2 separate regions of the Homo sapiens genome follow, and region 2 is linked to region 1. The links come from fine-mapping of genetic effects on gene expression. A gene starts in region 1. The other region holds a variant in brackets. All regions are shown on one strand. Distances are from middle to middle. Region 1 holds the start of PRXL2A (peroxiredoxin like 2A). Region 2 has its middle 7.1 kb from the start of TSPAN14.

Evidence for each region.
Region 2: its variant is fine-mapped to the expression of PRXL2A in monocytes after interferon gamma (Fairfax 2014, PIP 0.93).

What each region holds. Positions count from the first base shown.
Region 1 is chr10:80,406,001-80,411,372 of GRCh38, reverse strand. PRXL2A (peroxiredoxin like 2A) reads right to left here and starts at 2,822. Exons shown (of 6, transcript NM_032333.5): 1 at 2,730-2,822. RefSeq lists enhancers at 529-1,028, 1,875-2,468 and a silencer at 2,754-3,043.
Region 2 is chr10:80,444,543-80,449,914 of GRCh38, reverse strand. No RefSeq gene overlaps it. Among named protein-coding and RNA genes, the nearest start is that of TSPAN14, 7.1 kb to the left of the region's middle. RefSeq lists a silencer at 28-322. The variant G/C (reference allele first, on the strand shown) is at 2,147.

The DNA.
Region 1 (5,372 bases):
TGCCCGTAAACAGGGCCTGGGAAATCTGCTGCCTGGAGAGAACATCATCAGCCTCTCCCAAGCCCAATCCTTGGTAAGCAGCTTATAATCTGAAGCCAAATGTCTTAAGGGTCTCATTGCCTAGTCTCCGCTGAGAAGCCATTCTGCACCTCTCTTCCCCACAATAACAAGACTCTGTCCATCCTTGTCTAGCATACTGATGATGCAGGCACACAGAGCCTTATGAGCAACAGATGCCCTTCCACCCACCCTTGTCTTCATATACCACAAAATCAGTCACTTGCAATGAGCTCTCACCTACCTGCCTCAGTCTCCAACTCTCAGCCCTGCTCCTTGGGGTGTGTATCTGCCTGGTTCTGGCCCAGTCCTACTCTCAAATGCCAGATTCAGAAACCTCTGAATAGATGCTGAAAGCAGCACCAGCCCCCACATTCCTCACTCTTGGGCGTATCTCAGGGTTTCCCAGTAGCTGATTATGTCCTCTTGTTTCCTCAAGCTGTAGGGCCCCCCACCCCTCAAAGAGCAAGCCATTCTAATCTCACTTGCACAGCCTCCTGTCTGGGCTCAGAACTCCGGCTTCATCAAGTTATATGGGTGTGGATAGGAAGGCAAGGCAATACCACAGAAGACACTGGGCTAAAAGCCAATAATCCTGGGTTTTCTCTCTTTGACTCTGAGAGTTATTTTATCCCTCTGAACCTCAGTGTCTTCTTAAAAACAAGGGCACTTTAAAGAGTTGTCATAAAGATTATATAAGAAGAGCAATTTTTAATGCGGTAACGCACTAGAAAACGGCAAAGCAGCATTATCTTTCTCTCTTTTGCAGGGCTCAGATTCACTCGTGCCCCTATAAAGACAGGATATCTGAAGCAGGACAGGCACAAAATAGTGAACTTCTGCAGCTGTGTCACTGCAGGCCTGCTTTCTGGTGAACGTTCTAGGTCTGGTGGGAACACTGGCTTGTCTCAGCCCCTCTGGCCTGCAGGCCCGCTCCATGCTATTCCTGTAGCAGCTAACACTGCCTCCTGCACTAGCAGTGCCAGAGAAGGCAAAGGACACTGCCCAGCTGTAATTTCCCTGTGCCAGAGGCCACTGAGCTCAAAGGTGAGGCTGGCTCTCTGCACAGAACCTCAGGATGGTTCTTGCCACACAAGCCACAGCAGAGAGACTTGGAGCTTCTGCTCAACATTTCACAAAGAAGCAAGAACCCAACTGGCAGGACAGCTGCCCTATTGCTTAGATAGGGACAGAGCCTGGGGCTTGAGCCCTAGAGTTCCAGTCCTATCCAAACTTTCTGAGCACCATTTAAATGACACGAGATGAGAAAATCATCAGAAATGTCTTTTGTACCCCTTCAGAAGTAATGCAGAAGGTCTCAACTAAATGACATGCTCTTATAAAAGACGGGGATATAGGAAAGGCCCACACCAAGAATAATATCTAACTTTAATTCTTGCAAGCTGTATAAACCTGGACAAGGAACTGTTTTGCATCAGTAAAATGGGAATGCTTCCTTAATTACCTTCTACAGAGTTGCAAGAATCAAAGGATTAAATGTATAGGAGGTGCCTTGTGAGGTACCTTACAAAAAGTGCAATAAATACGATGTATAATTCTTCATTTCTAGAGCAATGATTACCCTCAAAACGTTATTTGTACACAAAATGAAGAGTTTTCTGATGAATGAGTATGGTAACGAGTCGGGGTCTGCAGTGGAAATCCCAATCCTCATTCTCCAAAGCTGGGCCCGAGCAGGAGCATTCAAGACTATTCAAGCTGACTTTTTCACAATGCTTTTCAAAACAAATCTTGATTATTTTCTTTTTGAAAAACCACCTGCCAGGTTCAAAGGAAAATACATTAAAATAAAACAAACAAAAAAGCTGAGTTCTGGGTTGCTGGGCTGTGCAGACAGCATGATGTGGCAAGGAAAAGAGGCGCAGGAGCAGCTGGGAACCCCGGTCCGGCAGTGGACTCCCGGGTGTGCCTCCTTCCCACAGCCCTGGACCGGCTGGGCCTTGACTTCCCTTCCTTTGCCTCTAACCATCTCCACCTGCGCCTTCACCTCCCGCTCCAGCAACAACCCTGGGGGCAGATTGTTCATCTTTTCATTCCTAGACCTCAGCAGGGCTGTTAAGTTTACAACTGGGCTCTACCCAATTTAAAGTCAGGCGTTTGTGACTCTTGGGAAAGAGGGGGAACAGGTGCCTCCGAAACGCTGAACAACGCTAGAAACCGTGCCCTCTTAAAAGACACGACCCTAAGCGGGCACAGAGACGAGGACGAGGACTGCCAGGTCCGCACCTGGGGCTGGTCCAGCAGGGCGGCCCCCGGGCCCATGCTCCAGGGCAGGGCCCTCTCCTCTGTTCTTTGTCCCAACAATTCGCGAAGGTTGGCGCCACCGGCGTCACTCAAGGCTTGCGGGCGTGGACAGAGGGGGCCCTAGCCCGCCGCAGCAGCGCCGGGTCCCCGTCTCCGTTCTCCGACGTCTGGGCGCAGGGTTTTTCCATCGGCCGCCACGCAGGGTGGCGGAAGGGTCGTCGTCCTCGGAGGGAGCGCCAGCGCTGCGGCGGCTCCTAAGAAAGTTGGCGCGGGCCCGAGGGGCGCGCCTCACCAGCCCAGCACCCACCCTACCGGCCCTGCACTGCCTCAGTTTCCCCACCTACGCCGCGGCAGGCCCCGCCTACGGACATCACGTGCCTCGCGGAGCCCCGGCGCGCAGCACCTACCTCAAGTGCCTCCCTTCTGCCGGCCTTTTACCGCCCCGACGCCCGGGCGCTAAGGGGCCAAACCGCCCGGCCCGGAGGGTCCCAGGGGCGGGCCCCGCGCTTGCGCAGCCTCTAGCCTGTGCTGCATCGCGCGCTACCGCGCCACCGCCATGTGACCCGCCCCGCCCCCCGTGGGAGGAGCTCCGGGCCTGCCCCCGACTCGCCGACCTCCGGGCCGCGGTCTCCTAGCTCCGGTGGCGCTCGGGCGTGTGCCCCAGCGGTCCTTTTACGCACAGCGCTCGGTCGGTCCACTCCTCAAGTCCGCGAACCGAGGCCCCGACGCGTTCTTCAGGGCGCTGCCTAGGGCAAAAGAAGGCGCTGGACACCCCTAATGGAGCCTGGAAGCACCTGTCCTGCAGCCGAGGCTGGCCAACTTCCTTCCAATCTTCAGCCTGGTTTTGAATAGCTCTTTTGATAGGTTTTTTTTTTTTTTTTAACCTCCATGGGCAGGGGGAATCTAAAGGACCGACACATTCGATGAGCCCCTTCAAGCTGTATGTACAGATTCAGAATTTCCAACCTCAATCCTCCACCCACGTTCCCTTTCACTCCACAATGCCAGCTATGGGGCAGAGAACGGTGAGCCGCAGCCTTGCGGACTCCGGGCGACGCTGAGGCGGGTGTGTCACACACCGCTCATCCACTTACTCCTCCTGTTGGAAGTGCCCACTCTTTCATGAAAGTAGGAGGTTGTGTCCGGCGCGCTGGCTCACGCCTGTAATCTCAGGGCTTTGGGAGGATCGCTTGAGCCCAGGAGTTCAAGACCAGTCTGGGCACCATAGTAAGACTCCATCTCTACGTAAAAAACAAAAACTAGCCAGGCATAGTGGCGCGTGCCTGTATTTCCAGCTACTCTGGAGCTGAGGTGGGAGGATCGCTTGAACCCGGGAGGCGGAGGTTGCAGTGAGCCCAGATCGCGCCACTGCACTCCAGCCTGTCTTTAAAAAACAAAAAAAAGACCCTGTCTTAACAACAAAAAACAAAAAGTAGGAGGTTGGACTTTCAGAGACAGCAGAGCTGACTCACGATACATATTAGTGGTTGGCCGGGCTCGGTGTCTCATGCCTGTAATCCCAACACTTTGGGAAGCCAAGGCGGGCAGATCACTTGAGGGCAGGAGTTCGAGACCAGCCTGACCAACATGGCAAAACCTCGTCTCTACTAAAAATACAAAAATTAGCCGGGTGTGGTGGCGCGCACCCGTAGTCCCAGCTACTCAAGAGGCTGAGGCAGGAGAATAGCTTGAACCCCGGAGGTGGAGGTTGCAGTGAGCCGAGATGGTGCCACTACACTCCAGCCTGGGTGACAGAGTGAGATTCCGTCTCAAAAAAAAAAAAAAAAGACATATCGGTGACACAGTGCAAAGACCAGTCACAGGGCAGCATAAGGTGAAGTGGCAAAGCAGGCCGATGTCCGCCCGTCAAAGGTGGTCATTTGCCTGCAACACCTTCCCCCCTTCATCTGGGAGCTGCCCACAGGTGTACAAAGTCCAAAGGCTTCCGTGATTCACCTCCCTGACTTCCCACTCAGACTCCATGTTCCATGTAAACTTACAGCAACACTTGGGGAGCTTGATCTATTCAAGGGGGTCTCTCCTCAACCAAACTGTGAATTCCTCCACTTCACCTCTGGGACCCTAGAGCCTGGCCCAGGGACAGCGTGGAAATAAACTTAGAAAACGTGAGAGGTGGATCTAAGTTGTGGGGTAAGGGAGATCAGCCTGAGTGCCCATGCAGTTTTCCTGCAGGAGTTAGGCATATGATTTGAAGGCCAGAAAATATTTCGTATACTTTGGTGCAATGCGGGTGTAGTTTTATATATATATATATATATATATATATATATATGATATATAAGATATATATAAGATATATATGAGATATATAAGATATATATGATATATGTATAAGATATGTATGATACATATATCTCTCTCCAGAGGACCTTTCTTTCTTCTCCCTTGTTTCTCCTTACCTTGTGAAGAGGAGCGGGAGAAGGGTCAATCTTTCCATCCCAAAATAGGAAGTTCAAAGGTGAGGAGGGTTTGCAGGGAAGGCCACTTAGAACAAAACAGGAAGTCATTTCCTTGGGAAATGAGTTCTTGGAGACTGACCATTAATGACAGAGCCATTCAGGGGTTGAGGATAGCAGAATTCTGGGGTGGAAGGTCCCCTGAGGCTTTAACTGTGATGTAATTACTAATCACGTGCAAAAGTCATGCTTATATTTACACTTCGGTAACATCCTGAAGATCTGGACTTCAAAAACCAGGCTACATCTGATAGCTAATTAATATGCTCCTCACATGCCCACGTTTCTTTTTGTACAAGAAAGCACAGGCTGAACTCATTAAAAAACAGTCATTAGACCAGAAAAATAAGTTACAGGCAAGCAGGCGCAGGAAAACTTATTTACAAAGCTCAAGGACTAAAACCAAAAACCAAACCAAAACAAAAAACCTGAAGAATAAACCAAGAAAACCCACCAACCTGCCCAGCTTTTAAGAGAAAAATAATTTAAATTTTGTAAAGATTGTAAAATAGCCTTAGGTTCTGAATTTCAGGTGGTAGAAATTAAGGTTGACTAGAAGCTTTGTGATAACTT
Region 2 (5,372 bases), 39 kb before region 1:
TCTTTTTCCTGGACCTGAAGCTGCCACAGATAAAATTGTAAGTGGAAGAGCTTGCCCTTTGTCTTCCCCTGACTTCTATAGCCCTCTGTGTCGGTCCCCAGTGCTGCACTCCCACCCTGGGCTCCACTCTGCAGCCTCTGTGTGTGTTTACAGGGCAATGGGCAGGTCAGGGTGAGATTGAACAGAAGAGGGAGTTGGTGTCCAAGCTCTCCTAGTTCTCAACATGATCTTGAGCAAACCACTTTACATTCCTGAGCCCTGCTGTTCTTATCTGTAAAGTCAAGGTAATACTAAAACCCACCTCACAAGCTTGTAATAAAAATCCAAAGAGATAAAGTTTGTAAAACTTCGAAAAATACTGGGTAAGCTGTAAAGAACTCTGTTACCCAGGAAAGATGTCTTATTAGGACCAGACTACCAAGGATTAGTCGGGACATTTTGGCTGGAAATGAGAACCCCACTCAGACTAGCTTAGGTCATCAAAGGGGAGATACTGGAAGGAGCCTCAGATTGCTCACAGAATTGAAAGAAGAACTTGAAACCAGAGTGACACAAAACGGGGCTGATCCTGACAACGTCCCAGAACGGGGGCCCTACCCTCTGTTTCTCCTAGTTCTCAGAGTTTGCCATGTCAGGTATGTGACTGAGTAAGTCTACACTCTTAAGTCGGTATGAACAAATCTCAAGAAAGGATCGACCGGGCATAGTGGCTCATGCCTGTAATCCCAGCACTTTGGGAGGCCAAGGCGGGCGGATCACTTGAGGTCAGGAGTTTCGGACCAGCCTGGCCAACGTGGTGAAACCTCGTCTGTACTAAAAGTAGGAAAATTAGCTGGGTGTGGTGGCGCATGCCTGTAGTTCCAGCTACTCAGGAGGCAGAGGTGAGAGAATCGTGCTTGAACAGGGGAGATGGAGGTTGCAGTGAGCTGAGATTGTGCCATTGCACTCCAGCCTGGGCGACAGAGGAAGACTCCATCTCAAAAAAAAAAAGAAAAAAGAAAAGAAAAGGATCCTAATTGGGTCAGCTCTGGTCACATATTCACTCCTGGACCCATTCTTACAGCAACATGGAGTGGCTTGAGAGAGCCAAACAAACTCTGACACAACCAGCGTGATGAGGGAGATGAGATATCGTAATTGGACTAGGTCTGGGTCACATGCCCATGCCTATGATCAGTAGGGCAAGGCCTATGCAGAAGAAGGGGTAGTGGTGTGTGCAGGGCCAACATCATCATTTTTAGCAGTCTTCTATACCAAGTATTCTTTAGGCCCTGGGCAGGTTTTAGGCAGAATGGTGACATTGTTATATCTGTACTTTAGAAAGATCCCTAAGGCTGGAGTGGGAAGGGAAGGTGGGAGGGAGCAAGATTGGAATAAAAAATGGTTAGAAAAGAAATGATGAGGAAATAGAAAGAGGTGGACAGAATCAAGATATATTTAGGAGCTGGAACTGACAAGTGACTAATTGCATGGGAGAATGAGGAATAAAGAGACATCATATTCTGGCTGCGTGGGCAGTGGCGCTATTCACTGAGAAGGAACACAAGAGACCCTGTGTGGATGTATAATATGTTTGGTGAGAGGTGATGCCTTAGACCTCTTCCATTTGAAGTGTTCCTGGGTAGGGTGGAGAGGTGCAATTTGCTGTATGGAGTTAAGAGAGACAGCTAAACAGAAGTTATCAGTTTGGAAGTTGTATCCATTTGAAATTGTGTTTAGCTTTTCTAACAATAACCCAAGGCCAGGTGCGGTGGCTCACATCTGTAATCCCAACACTTTGAAAGGCTGAGGCAGGAGGATCACTCGAGCCCAGGAGTTTGAGACTAATCTGTGCAACATAGTAAGACCCCATCTCTTTAGGAAAAAAAAAAAAAAAAGAAAACAGAGAGAGAGGAGAAAGAGAAAGAGGGAAAGGAGGGAAAAGAGGGAGGGAGGAGGGAAGGAAGGAAAGGATGGAGGGAGGGAGGGGAGAGAAAATAGCAACACAACTACATTGCCTTAACTACATTCAGCTTTCTCGCTGTAGTTGTAGGAAAAAATTCTGACACAACAAGAAGTCTAAAGGTAAGCAGAGCAAGGCTGATCAGCAGCCCCACAACGTCATCAGGTCCCAGCTCCTCTCTGTTGGTGTGTCTGGCTCTCCTTA[G/C]GGGACAGAGTTGGCTTGTGGTCATACAATGGCTGCCCCAGCTCCAGCTTCCCACCCACATTCCAGACAGAAGAAAGAGCAAAAAGAATGAAGGGGCAACACCTAAAACTTACCCAGAAATCCCCAGACTACTGCTTATGCCTCACTCGCCGAGTGCAGTCACATGACAAACCCTAACTCCAAAGGAGGTTGGGAAATGTTTAAAAAATTAACTCCTGTTTTAAAGAAAGAAGGGAGAATCGATATTGAGGAAGCAGTGTGTGATAATTGAAATCATCAGAGTAGAGGAGATTATTTTGGGACTGGGAGATGAGAAAAGGACCAAGGACAGAATCTTTGGAAAACGAGAGAGCAGAGGGACCAAAGAGACTGAGGAAGACTGTCCAGTGAGGTAGGAGAAAAGCCAAGAGGGTGGAATGGATGGAAGTCCAGGGGCAACAAGTGTTTCAAGAAGAGGGGAGTGGTCCAGTTTCCAGGGCTGCAGAGGGCCAGTGAAACAAGGCTGAAGAGCAACCATGGGGTTAATAGCTTCAGAGAACTGTTTCAGTGGAGAATTGGGTCAAAGACAGTTAACAGTGGGCTGAACAGCAATTGGAAAATGAGAGAGAGGTTGTTAACTGGAAGATGATGAGGATAAGCAGTTGCAGGAGGGTGTTTGTTTAAGAAAGGAGAGACTTGGGCCAGGCACGATGGCTCATGCTTGTAATACCAGCACTTTGGGAGGCCCAGGTGGGAGAATCGCTTCAGCCCAGGAGTTCCAGGTGAGCCTGGGCAACATAGTGAAACCCTGTTTCTATTAAAAGAAAATAACAAGAAAAACAAAGGAGAGACTCAAATATGTTTAAATGATGAAGGGAGAAGGCAAGAGAAGAGGGGAGATAAGAGAGTCTGAAGGAAGAGAGAAAACGCTTGCTGGAGAAGGTGGGAAGGATTGGTGTTCAGAACAAGAGGAGAGCCCCAAACTGGAGGACAGCAGGACCTTCATAGAGACAGGAGGCAGGAAGACAAGCTGGGTGAGGATGCAGATGTTTGTGGGTTCGGTGGGGCTTCCTAAGGGAAGGGGTCCACTTTCTCTGGAAGTAGAATGGGCACCTGCTGAAGGTTAAGTGGGTGTTGGGTGGGATCCAAGGATTTCAGAGAAACCTAGGAGAGAACGAGAGACACCTCTGAGCAGGGGCAAGCAGGAATGTTTGGGGAAGGGTTGCAAGCCCAGCTGCAAATGGAGACCCAGAGTGAGAGTGACACACATCTCAGATTACATGACCTTTTTCATCAGTACTCAGCAGCTGGAGTATGTGCAAGTGCAGAGAGCACAGACAGCAGGATTGATCAAAATCTGGGGTTTGCCGGGAGAGCATGATAGAAAAACAATGGTGCAAAGGATTCCAGAAGGTTGGAAATAAAGCAGTTGAGGTGTTGTATCCTGAGGCTTGGCTACTAGGGGAGAGAAGTGACAGCTGGAGGGGCTAGTAGATAGGGGGAAAGAAGATGAGGCTGCGGCTGGAGGGCCCTCAGCATGTGAAGAAGGGAGATACGGTGACACAAGGCTGTGGTCAGACAGAGGTGTGTATCCATGGGACCAGGTGATTGAGATGGAAGAAACGGAGAAACAAATGGCCCTGAGGGTGAGGAGGTCAGGACCAAGAGGCTAGTGGGAAGATGGGTCACTCCATCAGTATATGGCAGGACTTGGAGTGCAGGCAATGGCAATGGGTTAGGCGCCAACATCTTTGGTAGAACTTTTACTTCAAGGTCAGTTTTGCACTGGTGTTGCCTTTCTTGAAGAAAGAGGTTAGGGAGCCTTGGGGAAAAGAGAACAGAAAGGAAATTTATTTCTTGGCCTGTCATTCTATACTTGGCCTATTTGTTCCAGAACAATCTATTTTAAGGAATCTGCAAACTTCTAGGAGGTTTCTACTCTTATTTGCATCTACAGCCTCAGCCATGGGACCTCTGCCTGCCAGTGGCGTCCCCTGCAAAGAATTAGGACTAAGATTTGTGATAGGAGCCCATGTGTGAGGATAAGACACAGTGGAACACCCTTTAATTATAGCATCTGAGACTGTCTAAGCAGATGGTGGTGACAAGGAGTCCTGTCATCTCTCTGCCCTCAGTTGTTCCATTTCATAAACTGAAGGTGGCAGAGAAAGAAAGGTTGTTCAACAGGTGACATCCCACGGCCCTTTCAGCCCTGTGCATCAACCACACTGTAATGACTCCACATGGGAGAAGAAAGTTTTGCCAAAGAAGAAAACCCCAGATGTGGCCAAATAAGACATCAAGGGAGGGAGCAGATCCTAGATGTTAAGAGCAAGTATAATACCAGGAATCGGACTGCACGGGCTAAGTCCCAACTCTGCCCCTGAAAGCTAGGTCCACTCAGGCCGGAGAGCTGCTCATGTCTACCCAGGGAACTATGGGATCTGTGCAGATGTCAAAGCCACTTGACAGCACAGAGTGTTACTTCTGGAATAATGTCATGCAAACTGACCTTCACAAAGCTCTGACTTAGTAACATAAATGTGGAAAGGGGGCTCAGAGGGAATCACCTAGCTGATAAGTGGTAGAAGCAGGACTGTCAGCTTTATGACCACACCTGAGTCCCCAGTCTGTCTCAATCTCACACCTAGAGATTTGAGGGTCGGCTAAGGCCCTGGGACCTCTAGGCGCAGACACTGCTAGGAGAGCCACTGAAAGTTCCCCCTACCACTACAAAGTAGGGGAGAGAGGCACACCTAGACTCATCTGAGACAGAGCAGAAAACAGATGGATGTTGCAAACATCACAGGTACCTCTCCCTGTCCCTGTCACACAGCTTTGGGGAGTTTTAGTTGGTTCCATGGAGAATCTGGTAGTCCCCGGGGAGAGCTGCGCAGCAGTTGATGCCGCGTGCATACACTGCCACCTAGAGGCAGTCTGAGGAAACTCCAAGTTTATTAAACCACGGGTGTGTGTGTGTGTGTGCGTGTGTGTCAGTCTGTCTTTCTGTGTGTTGGGGGAGGAAGGGAGGGCTTTTCAGTCCTTGTCTGGCACTGCTGATTCTCTCTTTCCTGGAGCCCTTGGCTCTCTTCCTCTACCCACTCGGGACCACGTGTCCTGCACGCAGCTCCTCCTCAGTCTCTTTGCAGATCCTGCTCCCCATTTCCTACAAATGCTACTTTTCCCAGATGCTGGGAACATCTAACACCATTTTCTTCCCCCTCTCATCTCCACAGGCTCTCTGCCC